3 linked regions of the Homo sapiens genome follow. The protein of the gene in region 1 purifies or fractionates together with the protein of each later gene. This does not show direct contact. Each region holds a gene or a part of one and is shown in the gene's direction. Other genes may lie near its edges.

Region 1 (7,031 bases):
TCCCGGGTTTATGCCATTCTCCTGCCTCAGCCTCCCAAGTAGCTGGGACTACAGGTGCCCGCCACCACGCTCGGCTAATTTTTTGTATTTTCAGTAGAGACGGGGTTTCACCGTGTTAGTCAGGATGGTCTCTATCTCCTGACCTCGTGATCCGCCTGCCTCAGCCTCCCAAAGTGCTGGGATTACAGGCGTGAGCCACTGTGCCCGGCACTCTCAGTCATTATTAAAAATATTGAACACATGCCAAGTCAGAGCCTTGGTATCCGTATTGATACTGATCTGCACTCCCTATCCTAATTTTTACCCCAAGAATAGCTCCTCCATTCAGGGAGGGGTAGACAGGAAAAACAAAACGGGGGCTATGGATCTTTTGACACTTTCTCAGAAATAGTTCACAGACTGGTGTGCATTCCTCCCTTCCTGTCACTTTTCCCATTTGGCCCCTTGCCCAACGTGGCACCCTACATACTAGACTTAGCACTCATGGTAACCTTGGTCCCGCTCTTCTAGGACCCCAACGCAGACACTGAATGGAATGACATCTTACGCAAAAAGGGTATCTTACCCCCCAAGGAAAGTCTGAAAGAATTGGAAGAGGAGGCAGAAGAGGAGCAGCGCATCCTCCAGCAGTCAGTGGGTGAGTTCACTCGCTTTCCTCTGCACCTGTCTGGGTTAGGAGATGGCTCCCTAAGCCTCTGACTGCCCTGCCAGGAGACAGGTTGGAGTGCCAGCATGGACACTCTGTGTCTGTGGGACCTCAGACAAAACACAGGGCGTCTCTCACCTTCACCTTCCTGAGCCATAGACTTAGGGGACTTCAGATATGTCCCACAAGTCCTTGTCCATGTCACATGAGCACTGAAGAAAATACTTCTTTCTGCTTTCTGGTCTGTGATTCCCTTTGATAATGTCATGGAAATTTGTTCAAGGTTTTTAGTACTTGTATTTTCCTGAGCATATACTTTATTTTCTGTGGTTTCATTGAGGATATTAACTAAAAATTGCTTCATTTGGGGAGGCATAAGATGTTTGCAATGTGTGGGAGTCTGAGGGGGGTTTTCTCAAAGGCAGTTGTACTGTCTGAATTGGAGTCCCTTGGAGTGCTGGTAACCCCACCCACCTAGTGTTTACTGAAGCAGTCTCTGGAATGAGGCCCAGGAATCTGCATTTTAAACAAGTGCCTTAAAGGATTCTGATGCGTGTCATAGTTTGAGAAGCACTGGTCCCAGGGACTAGTACTTTTGTCCTCTGTTGACACATTAGAGCTAATTTAGAGAAGGATTTATTAGAAAGTATCCAGCGAGTGCTTACTGCATGATTATCATTGTCAGGTGCTTTTCTGGGGTTGGGGATTTAGCTATGCATAAGCCAGAGACAATTCTCTGCCCTCAGAGAACCAACATTCAAGTGGGGGAGACAGACAATAAACAATAAAGAAAATAAGGCAGTAAAAGGGACTAGAAAGGGTTGGAGGAGAAGCAGGCTCAGAGAGGGCCTCACTGAGATGACATTTGCATGGACCTGAAGGAGGTGAAGCTGGCATTTGGGTAAAGACCTGAAGGAGCTGAAGAACACATTTGAATAGACCTGAGGGAGTTGTTGAGACCTGAAGGAGGTGAAGAAGACATCTGGGTATTCCTGAAGGGGGTGACGTGAGCGAGTGAAATATGGGCCCTGGCATGGCTGGGAATCCCTGAGGAGCTGGAGGCGCTGGGGGAGAGAGTTCAGAGCAGCCTCAGCAGACCCAGAAGCTTCTAGTAAGGACCTTGGCCTTTACACCTAATGAGGCAGGAAGCTTTTGGATGTTTAAACAGAAGAGTGACATTTTCTCTTTTTTGTTTTTTTTTTGAGATGGAGTCTCGCTCTCTTACCCAGGCTGGACTGCAGTGGCGCAATCTTGGCTCACTGCAACCTCCGCCTCCCAGGTTCAAGCGATTCTCCTGCGTCAGCCTCCCGAGTAGCTGGGATTACAGACATGTGCCACCACGCCTAGGTAATTTTTTGTAGCGATGAGGTTTCACCATGTTGGCCAGGCTGGTCTCAAACTCCTGACCTCTAGTGATCCGCCCACCTCAGCCTCCCAAAGAGCTGGGATTATAGGCGTGAGCCACTGCACCCAGCCAAGGGATGCATTAACTTGGAGATCCCTATTAGACAAATAGCCACATTAAGAGGGCCCTTGGGTATGTTTTTCTCTACATTAGAGAAGTCTGGGCTGGAGGCCTATACTTTGGGAGTTGTCAGCATATTGATAGCACTGAAAGCCATGAGATTAGATGCAATCACCGAGGGAGTGGGTGTGGATAAAGAAGAAAAGTAGTCAAAGGTTTGAGCCTGGGGAATTTTAATCAGCAAAGGGTTCAACAGTAGGGCGGCTGGCTCACTCCTGTAATCCCAGCACTTTGAGATGGGCAGATCACTTGAGGTCAGAAGGTTCAAGACCAGCTTGGCCAACATGGTGAAACCCTGTCTCTATTAATGATACAAAAATTAGCTGGGTGTGGTGGCACACGCCTGTAATCCCAGCTACTCAGGAGGCTGAGGCAGGAGAATTGCTTGAATCTGGGAGGCGGAGGTTCTCAGTGAGTCAAGATCGCACCATTGCACTCCAGCCTGGATGACAAGAGTGAAACTCTGTCTCCAAAAAAAGGAAAATAAGCGGGGCAGGGTGAGGCGGAATAGGAGAAGAGAGGGGAGGAGGATCTGAGGGCTTGGGTAAAATGTTGTCAGTCAATAAATTGGGATTACAGGTGTGAGCCACCATGCCTGGCCTCTCAGCTTCTAATGTAGTGTGGTGCCTTAAGTAATTTTTGTTTAGGTAGGCTAAGGATCTGGTGTTGTGTGCATATCTTTAGGAGAAAAGAGAGGGGAAAAAAGAAAAATACATGTTCGTTCATCTTTTTAAATTTTTGCTTTTTGCCAATGTAACCAAATTCAGTGAAAACATATGAAGATATGACTTTGGAAGAGCTGGAGGATCATGAAGACGAGTTTAATGAGGAGGATGAACGTGCTATTGAAATGTACAGGTAAGCGCCACCCAGAGGGGCTGTTTGTTTTTTTGTTGTTGTTTGTTTTGTTTTGGTTTTTTTTTTGGCGTGGCAATAAAATGTGTGGGCTGAGCATGGTGACTCATACCTGTAGTCCCAACACTTTGGGAGGCTGAGGCAGGCAGATCGCTTGAGCTCAGAAGTTTGAGACCAGCCTGTGAAACCCCGTCTCTATAAATAATACAAAAACTAGCTGGGTGTGGTGGTGAACGGCTATAGTTCCAGCTACTCAGGAGCCCTGGAAGTGGAGGTTGCAGTGAGCTGAGACTGTGCCACTGCACTCCAGCCTGTGTGACAGAGCCAAACTCTGTCTCAAAAAATAAAATGAAATGTGTGTCCTTCAAAAAATTAATTTTCAGCTGAAACATCTAGGAGCGACTGCAATTAAATAATATTGTGAATTTTAGCAAACTGATCTTAGATTTTTGCCATAAGACCAATAAATAAACCTGGGCTTTTACAAGGATTGCCTTCTAGACGATGTGTGTGTACACGTGTTTGTGACGTAAGATGTTTCTCTCCTTGTTTTGTGCAGACGGCGGAGACTGGCTGAGTGGAAAGCAACTAAACTGAAGAATAAATTCGGAGAAGTTTTGGAGATCTCAGGGAAGGATTATGTTCAAGAAGTTACCAAAGCTGGCGAGGGCTTGTGGGTCATCTTGCACCTTTACAAACAAGGGTGAGCTGATCTTCCACTCCATCTATCAAATGTTAATTTGAATTTATGTCTTCAGGATCTCAGGCGTTACCTATATCAGAGGGTTAAGAAATTTTTTTTTCTGGGCCAGGCGCAGTAGCTCACACCTGTAATCCCAGCACTTTGGGAGGCTGAGGCAGGTGGATCATGAGGTCAGGAGATCAAGACCATCCTGGCTGACACGATGAAACCCCGTCTCTACTAAAAATACAAAAACAAAATTAGCTGGGCGTGGTCGCGGGCGCCTATAGTCCCAGCTACTTGGGAGGCTGAGGTGGGAGAATGGCATGAACCCGGGAGGCGGAGCTTGCAGTGAGCCGAGATTGCGCCACTGCACTCCAGCCTGGGCGACAGAGCGAGACTTTGTCTCAGAAAAAATTTTTCTGGTACTGAGTTTTTTGTGTTTTTTTTGCTGGTTTGCCCAAACCTTATTACTTAATTTTTTTATCTTAAGACTTTCAAGTTAATAATTTGTGACTAATATGAATGCCTTTGTTAAAGTATAGCAATGAAGACTATGCTTTTCTGTTTTTGAAAAGGAATTCCTAAGTTATTTATTCCTTTACAGGAACTCTGACATTTCAACATTCTATGTAATGAATTTATCTCATAGATGGCAAGGTTGGCCTTTACAGTAGTAATTGCCTGAACTGTGTGATACTGAGGGCCTCTGATTTTTCTCAGCTCTCCAGTCTTGTCTTAAACTGTAGAGTCCAGTGCTTATTTAGGAATTTCTTTTTTTTTTTTTTTTTTGTTTGAGACAAAGTCTCACTCCATTGACCAGGCTGGAGTGCAGTGGCATGATCTCGGCTCACTGCAACCTCCGTCTCCCAGGTTCAAGCGATTCTCCTGCCTCTGCTCCTGAGTAGCTGGGATTACAGGCGCCTGCCACCGCACTCAGCTGATTTTTGTATTTTTAGTAGAGACGGGGTTTCACCATCTTGGCCAGGCTGGTCTTGAACTCCTGACCTCATGATCCACTCATCTTGGCCTCCCAAAGTGCTGGGATTACAGGCGTTAGCCGCTGCACCTGGCCAGGAATTTCTTTAAAGCAGAAAACGTTTTCTGACATTTCATACTTTCTAAACCTTCAGCGTTTTCTCATTCAACCTTATAAGAAATGTATAGCAATTTTATCTTTTACATTGAAGCTGTTTTTCTGACTTGTTTTGTCAAATAAATTGGACTTTGGATTTGTGTTCTTCACTTTCCCTCAGCATATTAGGAAGTTTTTAAGAAATGTTAATTCAGCTGGGCATGGTGGCTTACACCTGTAATACCTGTAATCCCAGCACTTTGGGAAGCCATTGCGGCCGGATCTCGAGCTCAAGAGTTCAAGAGCAGCCTGGGCAACGTGGTGAAACCCTGTCTTTACAAAAAAAAAAAAAAAAAATCAGCTGGGCATGGTGGTGTGTGCCTGTAATCACACCTCCCGAGTAGCTGGGATTACAGGCGCCTGCCACTGCACCCAGCTAATTTTTGTATTTTTAGTAGAGATGGGGTTTCACCATCTTGGCCAGGCTGGTCTTGAACTCCTGACCTCATGATCTTGGCCAGGCTGGTCTTGAACTGCTGACCTCATGATCCACTCACCTTGGCCTCCCAAAGTGCTACTTGGGGGGCTGAGGTGGGAGCATTGCTTGTGAGCCGAGATCACACCACTTCACTCCATTTAGCCTGGGTGAAAACAAGACCCTATGTCAAAAAAAACATGTTAATTCATCTTAGCTAGCAGCAGAATTACTTGTGAAACTGTTACAAGGTTTTACTTAGGGTAGAAGGGTCATTGAGCTTTGTTCTGTATAAATGTAGGATCATAATTGCTTCTGTTTTCTATGTGTGTTTTATAGAATTCCCCTCTGTGCCCTGATAAATCAGCACCTCAGTGGACTTGCCAGGAAGTTTCCTGATGTCAAATTTATCAAAGCCATTTCAACAACCTGCATACCCAATTATCCTGATAGGAATCTGCCCACGATATTTGTTTACCTGGAAGGAGATATCAAGGCTCAGTTTATTGGTCCTCTGGTGTTTGGCGGCATGAACCTGACAAGAGATGGTAAGGGCTCTGGGAGACAGGCGGGGCAGTGAGAGATGGGAGGCGCATTTCTGTTGGAGAGAGTGTCTATTTCCTGGACTCCTGTTACGATGGTGGGTCAAGTTCACTTCTGCCTGTGTATGAGGACGGAAGCACGTTTAATCTCTCATCTTAGTTGCGTAATCAGGAACAGTTACAACTGGGCTCTACTGATTCTTAGTTCAAGGAAGGCGTGATAGACTTAAATATAAACATTTTTTATATTGGTGTGGAATATATTTTGTCTCTACAGTTGGATGTTTTTGTAGCTTGAAATCACAACATTCACTTTTGCTTTAATTCACATGAACACAGGGAGACGTTAATGTATGTATTTGTATTTTTCTACAGAAACATTCTCAGTTGAGTATGTTAGTAGCTTTTACATTTATTTACTTAGTTATTTATTTTTTGAGACAGAGTCTTGCTCTGTCACCCAGGCTGGAGTGCAATGGTATGATCTTGCCTCACTGCAACTTCTGCCTCCCAGGTTCAAGTGATTCTCCTGCCTCTGCCTCCCAAGTATCTGGGATTACTGGCACCTACCACCACGCCCAGCTAATTTTTGTATTTTTAGTGGAGACGGGGTTTCACCATGTTGGCCAGGCTGGTCTCAAACTCCTGGCCTCAAGTGATCTACCCACTTCAGCCTCCCAAAGTGCTGGGATTACAGACGTGAGCCACTGCGCCCGGCTAGTAGCTTTTATTTATTTTTTTTGAGACAGAGTTTCACTCTTCTTGCCCAGGCTGGAGTGCAATCACGTGATCTCGGCTCACTGCAACCTCTGCCCCCCAGGTTCAAGTGATTCTCCTGCCTCAGCCTCCCTAGTAGCTGGGATTACAGGCATGTGCCAACATGCCTGGCTAATTTTTTTGTATTTTTAGTAGAGACAGGGTTTCTCCATGTGGTCAGGCTGGTCTCAAACTCCTGACCTCAGGTGATCCACCCGCCTCAGCCTCCCAAAGTGCTGGGATTACAGGCGTGAGCCACTGCGCCTGGCCAGCTTTTAAATTAAATTAAAATTTTATTTAATTCTGCCTGTTAGCTCGGAAGGATGTGGTTTTTGTTTGATTGTTTGTTTTTTTGAGATGGAGTTTTGCTCTTTCGCTCAGGCTGGAGTGCAGTGGTGCGATCTTGGTTCACTGGAACCTCCACCTTCTGGTTTCAAGCAATTCTCCTGCCTCAGCGTCTCAGGTAGCTGGGATT
Region 2 (7,031 bases), about 27 Mb from region 1:
GGGTACACTTTGCAGGTTGAGGTGAGAAAAAGTATACACAAGCATTGGGTAAGTTAACCTGTTGAGGTGAAAGAACCTGTTGAAGGTGATAGGAAGTGATTGAGACTCATGTTAGTTTTTGATTTAAAGTGTAAGACTCCATCCGTGGCAGGGGTGGACCAGAGAAGACTTGGGGCTGCCATAAGGAATGATTTAGCAAGACTGGGAGATGGTAGGGCCTTTCAGGACACACATCTTTCCCTTACAGAAGGTGCCAGGGACTGGGCCAGCTGAAGAGCCAGAAAGAATGCTGGGAGTATAGAGAAGCCATTTCTTGCCACCAGACCTGGGACACTCCAGCAAAAGGAAGGAATTTTCCCTTCAGTTGACGCCTGATCCCAAATGTAGGGGTTTACATGACAAGCATTCTTTTTAAAATAAAAAATAAAAGGAGTAATGTATGATTATTTGACAAGCATTTAAAAAAATTTAATGAGGGCCTGGCATGGTGCCTCATGCCTGTAATCCTAGCACTTCAGAAGGCTGAGGCAGGAGGGTTGTTAGAGGCCAGGAGTTGGAGACCAGCCTGGGCAACATTTTTTAAATACAAATTTAAAAAATTAGCCAGGTGTGGTACCTCATGCATTGCGGTCCAGCTACTCAGGAGGCTTGAGCTTATAGTAAGCTATGATCTCACCACTGCACTCCAGCATGGGTGGTGGAGCAAGACCCTGTCTCTTAGAAATATATATTAAAAAATGAATAATATATTAAATTACTCCCACTCTCTTATTCCGTAGAGTTTATTGGGTATTTTTCGTTTTCTTTTTGTAGAGACAGGGTCTTGCCATGTTCCCCAGGCTGGTCTTGAACTCCATGAGCTCAAGTGATCCTCTTTTTTCTACAGTGGTTTTTGTTTTTTATGTAAATCACAGTATGCCATTCCTCTGCTGAAAGCTTCCCAGGGCTTTCCTTTTTAGGAATGAAATCTGAACTCCTCACCATAGTGTGTCTACGAGTGTGTATGTGATCTGGTTCCTGCCTGCCTCTTCAGCTTTATTCCAGTCTTCCTCTTGCTTACTACCCTCCAGCTGCGCTGGCCAAAAGAGTTGAACTTTTTAAGGAATTGACCAGTTAATAAGGAATCAGCCTCATGAGTGGCAAGACTCTGTCTTTGGCAGGAATTCCTCACTCCTCATTGTTAGGTTGGGAAAGCTCTGTGCTTTCCTGTGCCTTCCTTGCTCAGACATCCACGTACCTCTAAGGACTAGGTGATGGCTTTCAAACTTTTTATTGCATTCCACAGTAAGAAATACATTTTTAATCATAGCCTAGTAACAAATTTAACACAATAAAAGTTTTGAAATAGTATTTATCCTTACTACATTCTGTGTCACACACAAAATTAGCCAGAAACACTTGAGAAGACTGGATCTAGTTCGTGGGCTTATCTCTGAAGGCTCAGATTTGAATGTGGAGAGAAAGTAGTCTGGTTTGCTAAGCTGAGAAATTGCTCTCTCTGCTAATAATGGTGGTCACTAGAGCAAAGATATCTGAGCGGGCCCTTTAAAACAAGCAAGTATCCCTGTTTCTCAGTTTCTAAAGCAGGTCTGCAAATGAAGCCCTTACGGGGATAGGGAATGTTCTGGAGACCAATGCAATATAGAAAGAGGAAAACTTCTTTGGGGTATCTGATTGGAAATTAGTCACACAGAAGCTTTATTCAGCCAGCATGAGAGATGGAAACATTGCTGTATGAATTAGATTTGCCATCATTTTTCAAAACAGGGCAAAGGTGCTGTTTGTTTCTCTGCCTGTTTTCCTACACTGCAGCTGAACATCACTGTTACATAAAGCTGACTGCCTAGGCATCTCTAGGACAACACCTCAAGCTCTTGGCATCTTGCATTTTGCATCAGTGTCCCATCTGCTTCTCTAAGATTGAGCTGTAACACAGACAAGTGGATGTTTTGCTGCGGAATGAACACTTAGCAGGGTCTGCCTCTTCCTCCTGTGTTGTGACCCAATTCCTCAGCACAGGGAGTAAGGTCAGAAGTTGAAAAGGCCATGGTCATTCAGCTGGGTACTGGAGAACTCATGATTTTTTCTTTTAGATTAGGTCAGTGCTTCTCAAACCATTTTCCTGTCTAGCATACCTGCAGGGTAGGCTAAATTTGATAGTGTCTCTGGAGGTAGAGGCTGGTTGGGGAATGGATGTGGTAGACAGTTGGGGGAATGTGGTTTAAGAAGACCTCTAGATAATTCTGTTAAGGGAGAGATGGGAGCATTTTCCCCTTTCCCCTGCCAGTCTCATTATAATAGATGATTATTAAAAGCAGTTAATTTCTTTCTTTTCTAGCCCACACCAGTTATCCTATTGAAAGAGGGGACTGATAGCTCCCAAGGCATCCCCCAGCTTGTGAGTAACATCAGTGCCTGCCAGGTGATTGCTGAGGCTGTAAGAACTACCCTGGGTCCCCGTGGCATGGACAAGCTTATTGTAGATGGCAGAGGTAAGTCTACAGAGTTCCTCAGGCCTGTGTGCAGGAAAGGAGGCTCCTGAGGGGGTGTTTGGGACTAGCATAGGTTGGTATCAGAAATCCCACTGCTTTTAAGATCGTTGAAAGATGACTCACTCTGAAGCAGTTCCAATTCTTATATTGTCCTGACTGCTGAGCCCGTGTGGGACTATATGAGAGAACCTAGGCTCAGGAGCCTGTTGCCTCATAGGGAGACGTGGCCTAGAAACATGAAATAGAACCATCTGGAGTTTCCTGTGTTCACTTCCATTGTTATCAAGATGAGAAAATTCCTGTTTATATCTTGGTATATTAATTGATGTGTGAGGGTATCAACTGTGGTAAGAATATCTAAGTGGTTACTTTTATTTAAAAAATCTTTTCTGTATCCAGTTGACCTGTATTAATTGCTCTTCAAGGAAAATTGGGAGTCTGTGGTCTGCAAAAGCTTGTGATTTTAGACCCTTTGTGTACAGAGCTAATTCTGTATAGAAAGATCAGATAGGTATCCTTTCCCTTCAGCCCTGCCGTGATCCCCTCTGCCCCATCCCAGTAAAGTGTAGATGGGTTCTAGGTCCCACTTGAAGACAGCATTTAAGAAAGGGGCTTTAGATTTTTGTTTGTTTCTTTTAAGGCAAAGCAACAATTTCTAATGATGGGGCCACAATTCTGAAACTTCTTGATGTTGTCCATCCTGCAGCAAAGACTTTGGTAGACATTGCCAAATCCCAAGATGCTGAGGTAGGAAAATAGTTGTGTGTTTAAATGGAGGTTGAAACACATGCTTGCTTGCTCCTTAGTTCTCCTCTATTAAATTTTTTTAAGATTTTATATAATTATAATTGTACAAGTAATACATGCTTATAAAAGTATTTAGAATTAACAGCCTTTTAAAATTCATACTATTTCGTTACATGTAGCTTTTCATATCCATTAATACATTGGTGAATGACAACAGTCTTTAGATATAAGTCTACTGCCTGAGATCTTAACAGGTTGTGTGCTGTCATTTGTGTGAGTTGCTAGGTTAAATAATTTGACTTCTCATCTCTTACAAAATGGGGCTGTAAACTAAGACTTCCAATCTGCCTTTCTTTCTTTTTTTTTTTTTTTTAAAGAGATAGGGTCTTACTATGTTTCCCAGGTTGGCCTTGAACTCCGGGGCTCAAGCCTTCTCTCACCTCAGCTTCCTTAGTCGTTGGAACTACTGGCATTCCCCACTACACCAGGCTTTTTTTTTTTTTTTTTTAAACTGATGATAAAACAGACATAATATTTATTCTTAATACCATGTTTAAGTGTATAATTCATGGCATTAACCAGTCTATCTTTTAAAAATAAATTCTAACACTGGAGTATTAATAAATGTGTTGACAGATAGGTTTTGTATTTTAGAGTACTGCAAAATATGTATACTACAGGTATGTCTTGAAGTTACGTTAAAAGGTTTATTAGGAGCCAAGCCTATAAAACAGGTATAGCATATATAAAATTAAAGAGAGAAGAGTCTGGATTTGATTTGTTTTTGTCTTCAACGAGGGAATAATGCCTTTTGGTCCAGAAATCTGCCCACTTAAACCTTCTCTATAGTAACCTTTTTTTTTTTGCCCCTTGAGAATTTCTTACCTTACACAGTGAACATACATGAAGTTAAAAATAAATTTCTGGGCTGAGCATGGTGGCTCATGCTTGTGTCTCATTACTTTAGGAGGCCAAGGTGGGAGGATCCCTTCAGTCCAGGAGTTTGAGATCAGCCTGGGCAATACAGCACGACCCCATCTCTACCGAAATAAATTTCTTCCAGTTTAGAGTTTATCCAATTTTCTTAGAAAGCTCTTTTTCTTTTTCACCCTCATTAAATAGGATTTAGATCCCATCACAGAAAAGCACCATCTAAAAAAGATTAGCAGACTAGTAATCTGCTTATTCCCAGTAGTTTTTTTTTTTTTTCTTTTGAGAGGGGGTTTCATTCTTGTTGCCCAGGCTGGAGTGCAATGGTGTGATCTTGGCTCACTGCAACCTCCGCCTCCTGGGATCAAGCAATTCTCTTGCCTCAGCCTCCCGAGTAGCTGAGATTGCAGGCACCCACCACCACGCCCGGGTAATTTTTGTATTTTTGGTAGAGACGGGGTTTCACCATGTTGGCCAGGCTGGTCTCGAACTCCTGACCTCAGGTGATCAGCCCGCCTCGGCCTCCCCAAGTGCTGGGATTACAGGCATGAGCCACCGTGCCTGGCCTCCTCATAGTTTTTGAAATATAAAGAACTTTGGCTGGTCCTAGGACGTTTGTTTTAGTGTGATTTGACTGAAAGTTACCTTTTTTTTTTTTTAACTCCTGGCCAGATGCAGTGGCTCATGCCTGTAATTCTAGCACTTTGGGAGGCCGAGGTGGGAGGATTGCTTGAGGCCAGGAGTTCAAAACCAGTCTAGACAACATAGGGAGACCCTTTCTCTATTAAAAAAGAAAGGAACTCCTGCAGTACCTTTTGCTTCTTGAGACGGAGTCTCACTCTGTCGCCCAGGCTGGAGTGCTGTGGTGCGATCTTGGCTCACTGCAACCTCTGCCTCCCAGGTTCAAGCAATTCTCCTGCCTCAGCCTCCTGAGTAGCTGGGATTACAGGCGCCCGCCATCACGCCCAGCTAATTTTTGTATTTTTAGTAGAGACAGGGTTTCACCGTGTTGTCCAGGCTGGTCTTGAACTCCTGACCTCAGGTGATCCACCTGCCTCAGCCTCCCAAAGTGCTGAGATTACAGGTGTGAGCCACCGTGCCCAGCCACCTTTTGCTTCTTAAACAATGTTTGTCTCTTGCTTCTTGGTACCATGATTATTTTAAGTATTGTATTACAATAAGCATGACAAGGACTGTTTTATTCATCACAATGCCTTGTACGTAACATAAGTTCTCAGTTCATGTGTGTAATTTTTTACCCTGAGGACATTTGATTGTCCACATCAGCCCTCTTTAGAGAATGGGGCTGTCTGGGGAATTAATTTGGTAGCCCAGGACTGTTTGACATGATGGATATGTAACTACCATTAGCTTCTTTCTACTTATTGCAAAAACCTGTGCTTCCAGAAAAAAGCTTGACATCCATTTAAATAATATTCAGTTTAAATGGGTAGCGTGCCTAAAAATGGAGTTTCAGGGCTTTATTCCCTGAACATCAGAAAACGTGTATTTCCTGTCATCATCTTCCAGGTGGGTGATGGCACCACCTCAGTGACCTTGCTGGCTGCAGAGTTTCTGAAGCAGGTGAAACCCTATGTGGAGGAAGGTTTACACCCCCAGATCATCATTCGAGCTTTCCGCACAGCCACCCAGCTGGTATGGCAGTACTGATTAACCTTCTCTTGGGCCTGGACACCTTCACATTTCTCTTAGGAAGGGGAATTTCTTTTCAGGAGTGTGGAGGGACTGGGGAACAGGGTACTTTGGGCATTTTCTGACATCTCCTTAGTAATCTCAGTTCTACTAATCTGTAGCCATTTGATGAGGTGTATTACTTAATCTCTTTAAGCCTCAGGTTAGAGTCAGCCTGGTAGACTATGATGTAGACATAGTCTTTTAGTAAGGACTAAGAGACTCATGGCATACTACTACTACATGCTATACTCAAGCACCTCATGGTGTATATTGAGACCTAGCTATTATTTGCCCTCTAACCTTCATTTGTGATCTGGGGCAAGTCATTTAATCTTTCTAGGCCTTACTTTCTTTGCTATCTCTAATTTGAGTGGTGACATTAAAATGAAATAATATATGAGGAGTACTTTGGAAAAAAATAAAAAGTTTATATATTTGTATGCATATTTTATATATAACTAATATATAAAGTGCTAGAAGTTGTCGTAGGTGTTTTTAGTAAACCAGGAGGTTTGGCTTAATCTCGTGTCACAGCTGTTTCCACTCATTCGTTGTAGCGTGTTACCTGCAGACCCAGAGCAAAATCTTGGAAGCACCCTGATTCTTCAGAACTGTATACCCACTCTGCATTTCTGACTTGGAATTTTCTGAACTATAGAGTTTTACATTTTTCTGAGCAGTTACAAGACCTAGAAGTGTTTTTTCAGCTGTAGAGTAGAAATGCTTAGGATTTGGGAGTGAACAGACTCAGGACTATTGAGAGATTGAGGTCCACTTCAGCAGTTTGTCTTTAGCATGAGAGACTCATTCAACTTCTGTTCTTGGCAGGCAGTTAACAAGATCAAAGAGATTGCTGTGACCGTGAAGAAGGCAGATAAAGTGTAAGTCTGTAGTGGGTTTTTTTTTTTTTTTTTAAAGAGACGGAGCCTTGCTGTATTGCCCAGGCTAGTCTTGAACTACTGGCTCAAGTGATCTCCCACCTGCGACTCCCAAAGTGCTGGGATTACAGGTGTGAGTCACCGTGTCAGGCCTTTGTCAGAACCTTGACTGACTTCCTGTGGCCAAATTGGATGCAGAAGCATGCTGCAATCCCTCTATGTGCCTGGGGCTGTTTGGCTCCTGCCAGACCCTTGGCTGTGTCCCAGCCCACAGAGCACAAAAGAAGCT
Region 3 (5,637 bases), 2.9 Mb from region 1:
ACAAGGGAGCCCCGACCCAGCTTCCTGGGGTTGTCCTCCCTCAGTCTGTGGATGGTGACGGCAGCCCTGCCCCACCGAAGTCAGGAGCGTGGGCTGAGTCACTGTGGCTGCAGGAAGCCGACCCTCTGCAAGGGCTGGGCCATGGAGGGCTGGGTTCTGGCGCTCAGACATGCAGCTGTCTCTGCTGACCGTGCCTTCTGACCCTGAGCTTCTCGTCCTGCCTAGGCCCCCTCTCTAGCCCCGAACCCCATAGGCCCCAGTTCCAACCTGTGCCCCCCAGCCACATCCTGGTGTTTGGAGGCCAGGTACCCTCTGGGCGACTATGGTTGGATTTCGGTTTTTCTGGACACAAGCTCTGCCATGCTCCCTGCCCACCTTGCTGACGTTATCCGTCCTAACAGTGTCGGGCGGCCGAAGCACATGCGGGTGATGGCTGGAGCCCTGGAGGGGGACCTCTTCATCGGACCAAAAGCAGAGGTAACACCGAGGAGCCTGCCTTTCCCTGGGGGTGGGGTCCTCAGTTGCAGGAACATGGCATGTGTTCTTGGGCCTCTGCTGGTGACCTCCCGGGTACCTCCTCCAGGCTCCAGCTGGGAAGTGCTGTGCAGGGGCACCTCCCCCTGAGATGGGGCAGCAGTTCCTCTTCTAGGGAGCATGGGTAGAGCTCATCGTGTCCTGTCTTTTAGAAGCTATTTGGAAGCTACAGAACCAAGAACTGATCAAAAAGTGATATAAGAGTCAGAATCACACACACTTCACGTCTGCTCTAATGAGGGCCATGGGGCCGCCTCTCACAGTGAAGCCGGAGTGTCCCACCAAGGGGCTGCATGGCCTGATCAGACCCTCAGGAGAGCATGTGTGGGTGTGGGGAGAGCAGCAAGCTGAGCTTGGCCAAGGGCAGTTTAGGCGCCTGAGGAGCATTGTGTCGGGTGCCGGGGCGTGGGGCATGCGTGGTTCTGGGCCCAGAAAGGGGAGGCCTGAGCTGGAGGTGCAGAGGGTGGGGGTCTCGCAGATGGGGTCCGTAGGAGCCGAGGTGGTGAGAGGAGCTAAGTGGTGCTAGGTGAGAAGGGGCATGGCTGGGGGGACATCGAAGGGCAGGTGGAGGCAGCATGTCAGTGCAAACAGGGGACTGGTGAGGACCGGCCAAAGGGCTGGGGGGAGAGGCGTAGGTCAGGGGGCACAGGTGGCCCAGGAGGGGCCGTGTTGGGCGGCTGCAAGGTGCCGGCGCTGGCCAGAGGGGAGCTGGCAGAGTGTGAGGAGAATGTGGGGGATGTGCCGGCAGTGAGAATGGGGAAGAAGAGAGCCTGCAGATTGCGGGGCACACTGCCACCCTCTCTGATCCCCCCAGCTGAAGCTAGCTGGGCTCTAAGAGCCTAAGAAGCTGGTGGGCAGGTGAGCCCATGCTGAGTTCAGGACCCGCCACAGACCCTGGGACACCCAGTGAGCAGGGGTGGTTCTGGTCAGGGCAGGTGAGGTTCTGGTCAGGGCAGGTGAGGGTCAGCTTCCAGGAGGGCGGAAAGCAGCCGCTGAGCAAGGGCCGGGTGCCACACCTCCCTTCCCACCCCACCAGGAGCACCGGGGGCTGCTGACCATCCGCTACCCCATGGAGCACGGCGTGGTGCGAGACTGGAACGACATGGAACGCATCTGGCAGTACGTCTACTCCAAGGATCAGCTGCAGACCTTCTCGGAGGAGGTGTGGCGGCTGCCCCTCCTGCATGCTCTGCATTCTCCTGGCCATGCCCCTCTCCTCTGCGTCCCTCCTCGCCGGGCTCCCACATTTCCCTTCTACATTTCTAGAGGGCCTGCTGCCTTTCCGTGTGTGTCTGGGTGCGCATACGTACCCAGTGGCTGCTAGGCAGAATCTTCCAAAGAGAGCCGGATCTCCGGAAGAGTAACTGCCAGCAGATAAAGGGATGGGGCCCTCAGGAGGGGTAGGAGGCTGAGCTGCCTGTGCGCCAGCGGGTGTGGTTCTCTGGAAAGAGCCTTTTAGGGCCTTGCAAGTTGCCTCCTCTGATGCCTACAACTGTCCCGTCCCTCGCAGCATCCTGTGCTCCTCACGGAGGCCCCGCTCAACCCGAGTAAGAACCGGGAGAAGGCGGCAGAGGTGTTCTTTGAGACCTTCAACGTGCCGGCCCTGTTCATCTCCATGCAGGCTGTGCTCAGTCTGTGAGTGCTCCCTAAGCCTGGCCTCCCTGAGTCCTGTCCTCCCTGTGCCGTCCTGCTTGCCATGACCAGGGTCTGACTTCCCTGGAAAAACAGCCCCTTGATGACTGTTCCTCTAGGGAGTCCCTCGTGTCCTCTCTTCAGACTAGATAATGCAGATGTGCCAGGGTTCCTCCCCTGGGTGAGGAGGTCCCCGTGCCTCAGTGGCTGAGGTGAGGGGATGCTGACCTGGTGACAGGTACGCAACAGGACGCACGACAGGAGTGGTTCTAGACTCAGGGGACGGGGTCACTCATGCTGTGCCCATCTATGAGGGCTTTGCCATGCCTCACTCCATCATGCGGGTGGACATTGCCGGCCGCGACGTCTCCCGCTACCTCCGACTCCTGCTGCGCAAGGAAGGGGTTGACTTCCATACCTCGGCTGAGTTTGAGGTTGTCCGGACAATCAAAGAGGTGACAAGGGGCGAGAGGGTGTGGACACGACCTGGGGTGAGGAAAGGGTGGCACCAAGGCACAGGTGTCCCAGGTGCAGCCTTCTGAGGGCTGTGTCCCTGTCCCCGCAGCGAGCGTGCTACCTGTCCATCAACCCACAGAAGGATGAGGCTCTGGAGACGGAGAAGGTGCAGTACACGTTGCCAGACGGCAGCACGCTTGATGTAAGTGGCCGGGCCTGGCACTGGAGTGGCAGCCGATGCCCAGCCTGGGGGAAGGGGTAGCCCGCTTCTCCAGGAAGCCTGTCTGCCTCAATCTTGTACACTAAAGGTGGGGCCTGCACGATTCCGGGCCCCCGAGCTGCTGTTCCAGCCGGACCTTGTCGGGGATGAGAGTGAGGGGCTCCATGAGGTGGTGGCCTTCGCCATACACAAGTCCGACATGGACCTGCGCCGGACGCTGTTCGCCAACATCGTGCTCTCAGGTGGCTCAACGCTTTTCAAAGGTACTGTGGCTTGAGAGTTGGTGGTGGTGAGACGAGGCCCAGGGCAGCTGGACCCTCAGAGAGTATACCCCTACCCAGAGCCATATTCTGTTGGCTTTTTGGTGGTGCTCAATGAACATTTTTTTTAACAGACCAAAATTTAAAATTAAATTTTGTTTACTCTGTGAATAGAGGAGAAGTTTACACAAGCTCTAAAGTGTATTGTGAGAGTCGAGCAAGGAGCATGTGCGGCTTCATCTCACGCTGCCTCTGTGAGGACGCAGGGCCCGCAGGCAGCCATGGGGCTGGATCATTTCTCAGCCTTGCCCTTCATCCTGGGAAGAGCTGCTGATAGAGGACCAGCAGTAGCTGGGGGCCCTGAAGGCTGGGTGCGGGAGCTAGCAGCGAGGAGGCCGGGTGCAGACCCCAGGCTCAGCCAGCTTTGTGTTCACAGGCTTCGGAGACCGATTACTCAGTGAAGTGAAGAAGCTTGCCCCAAAGGATATCAAAATCAAGGTGAGGTTACAGAAACTCCCCCTGGGGCACTAGGGCGCTGGCAGCCTTGGCATGGGGAGGAAGGTTGAATGCTGCCCCCAGACCCGCTCACCAGCTCACGTCCACCTAGTCCTGTTCTTCCCAAGGCTGCTGCTGCCACTCCCCAGCTTATGCCTTTGCTGTCAGGCTTCAGGACCTGGGGAAGGTGACCCCAAGGCTGGGAGGATGGCTTCTGGGTGGGGATCCACAGTTAACGTGGCCACTTCCTCCTTCTAGATCTCAGCCCCGCAGGAACGGCTGTACTCCACATGGATTGGGTGAGGCGGGGCTCAAGGGAGGGCTCTGGGAGGAGACCACTTTACCCTGGATGCTCCTCCCATTGTTGGCCTAGGCCACGTGGAGGTGGGTGGATTTCCCTCCCAAATTAGGGAAATGCAACTCTGAGCACCCAGGAAGGTGGTTGGCTCCCTGACAGGTCCACAGCAATACTATCCCTCCATCCCCACAGCGGCTCCATCCTGGCCTCGCTGGACACTTTTAAGAAGATGTGGGTGTCCAAAAAGGAGTATGAAGAGGATGGCTCCCGTGCTATTCATCGCAAAACTTTCTAGTGCCCAAGGAGGGCGGGGCATGTTGGGAGAGGGGGAGGGAGGGGAGACAGAGCCTTTAACCCTTTTTGGTCTTGGCTCGTATACTAGGCTTAGGGTCCCCTGCATGCCCTGAACCCCTGGGTGGGTGGCACAGCAGTGCCCCCCTGCAGCCTTCCCCTCTACACAGGACATGCACACACAAGTAACATTGAGCTGCATGGACAGGAGCCTTGAGCTGGCGTGTGGGAATTGAGCGCCATGTCAGGCTGTTGTGGGTATCCCCCTGGCAGGGCCAGCTAGGCCTGTGGTTCCCTGCTCCGACTCTCAGGGCTGCCTCCCTGAGCTCCAGGGCCAGAATGCCTGGATGCCTGGGTAGCCAGTTTGGGGAGTGGGCTGCAAGGGGCAGCCAGCAGCTCCCACTGGTGTGTCACTGCATCCATTGCCACCTCCTGTTCGTGACCTGACAGGGTGACACAGCCCCTTTCACACTCTGTCCTCCTATCTTCCTGGGTAGATGCCCTGGTGTAGGGCTGAGTACTGAATGGTCTTCCATCCCCAGCAAGGGGGTGCAGCCCAGGGTCAGGCCCTTCAGAGCCAGGGCAGAGGATGCACGGTGGCTAGAGCCGCTGCACTATCCTTTTCAGAGCACTTCATCCACTTGCTCCTCCCTCTACCCTCGGCACCCTGGGTGGGAAAGGGTTGATGCTCATCATTTATTGAGGGGAAGCCACTTAATAAGGAGTCAGACCTAAAAGGGGGTGGGGGACATTTTCTTACCTCACCCAAGAAAGAGGTCGTCACTTTTGCTGTGGCCAGGGCCCCACCTCCCTCTCTCAGATATGTACAATAATTTAACACGGTTGCCTGAAAAAAACTTTTGTAAATCATTATAGTAATAATTATGGACAAGGCCCAGTGTGTGGCTCTGTTTTCTTGTGGCTCTCTGTGCTATCGTTTGTTCTTCCATCCCTGGGGACTTTCAGAGAAAGGACCAGAGAGAATGCAGCAAGGCACTGGCTCTAGCTTAGCGGCATGAAGGTTTCAGTGGTTGGCCCGCCAACGTGGCACAAAAAGCCTCAGGAGGCTGGGCTCTCACCCTGTAGCATAATTCCCTCGCCTGTTACCTCCCCTGCTGCAGTCCACCAGGGGAAGTAGAACCAGGCTACCTTCTTTGCCCCCGGACCCTGGACAGGCCTATTTGAGCACCTCTGCTCACCCCATTCAGCCAGGGCTAAGGCTGGTGGACACCAGCAATGATGCAAGCTCACGCCTTCAGACAAGTCAGGATGGGGAAGGCAGGGAGAGGCAGAGAGGCTGTGAGCTTAGCCAGGCCCTAGAGGAATAGGCAGAAGAGCAGTGAGGAATTAGGGTTTGGAGAATGTCTGCTCTTTACTTTCTTAAGTGTTTGAGAACCTACAGTGTTTCCAGGATGGTGCCGTGTGTTTGGGGCCAATGGTCAACAAGTTAT

The links. Proteins that work in one complex are often made in the same cells at the same time.
Region 2: the proteins of PDCL3 (region 1) and CCT7 purify together in Homo sapiens (co-immunoprecipitation; 5 studies listed by BioGRID and IntAct, with this or other methods). This does not show direct contact.
Region 3: the proteins of PDCL3 (region 1) and ACTR1B purify together in Homo sapiens (affinity purification with mass spectrometry; 4 studies listed by BioGRID and IntAct, with this or other methods). This does not show direct contact.

What each region holds. Positions count from the first base shown.
Region 1 is NC_000002.12:100,565,993-100,573,023, forward strand, and holds part of PDCL3 (phosducin-like protein 3), read left to right. Parts: intron 1-510; coding exon 511-637; intron 638-2,938; coding exon 2,939-3,029; intron 3,030-3,585; coding exon 3,586-3,729; intron 3,730-5,597; coding exon 5,598-5,806; intron 5,807-7,031. UniProt on the Homo sapiens protein: Acts as a chaperone for the angiogenic VEGF receptor KDR/VEGFR2, increasing its abundance by inhibiting its ubiquitination and degradation.
Region 2 is NC_000002.12:73,237,305-73,244,335, forward strand, and holds part of CCT7 (T-complex protein 1 subunit eta), read left to right. Parts: intron 1-2,338; coding exon 2,339-2,492; intron 2,493-3,132; coding exon 3,133-3,239; intron 3,240-5,699; coding exon 5,700-5,825; intron 5,826-6,692; coding exon 6,693-6,745; intron 6,746-7,031. UniProt on the Homo sapiens protein: Component of the chaperonin-containing T-complex (TRiC), a molecular chaperone complex that assists the folding of actin, tubulin and other proteins upon ATP hydrolysis.
Region 3 is NC_000002.12:97,655,411-97,661,047, reverse strand, and holds the end of ACTR1B (beta-centractin), read left to right. Parts: intron 1-401; coding exon 402-477; intron 478-1,570; coding exon 1,571-1,696; intron 1,697-2,044; coding exon 2,045-2,169; intron 2,170-2,404; coding exon 2,405-2,621; intron 2,622-2,731; coding exon 2,732-2,824; intron 2,825-2,930; coding exon 2,931-3,105; intron 3,106-3,538; coding exon 3,539-3,600; intron 3,601-3,855; coding exon 3,856-3,896; intron 3,897-4,087; coding exon 4,088-4,190; 3' UTR 4,191-5,109; downstream 5,110-5,637. UniProt on the Homo sapiens protein: Component of a multi-subunit complex involved in microtubule based vesicle motility. It is associated with the centrosome.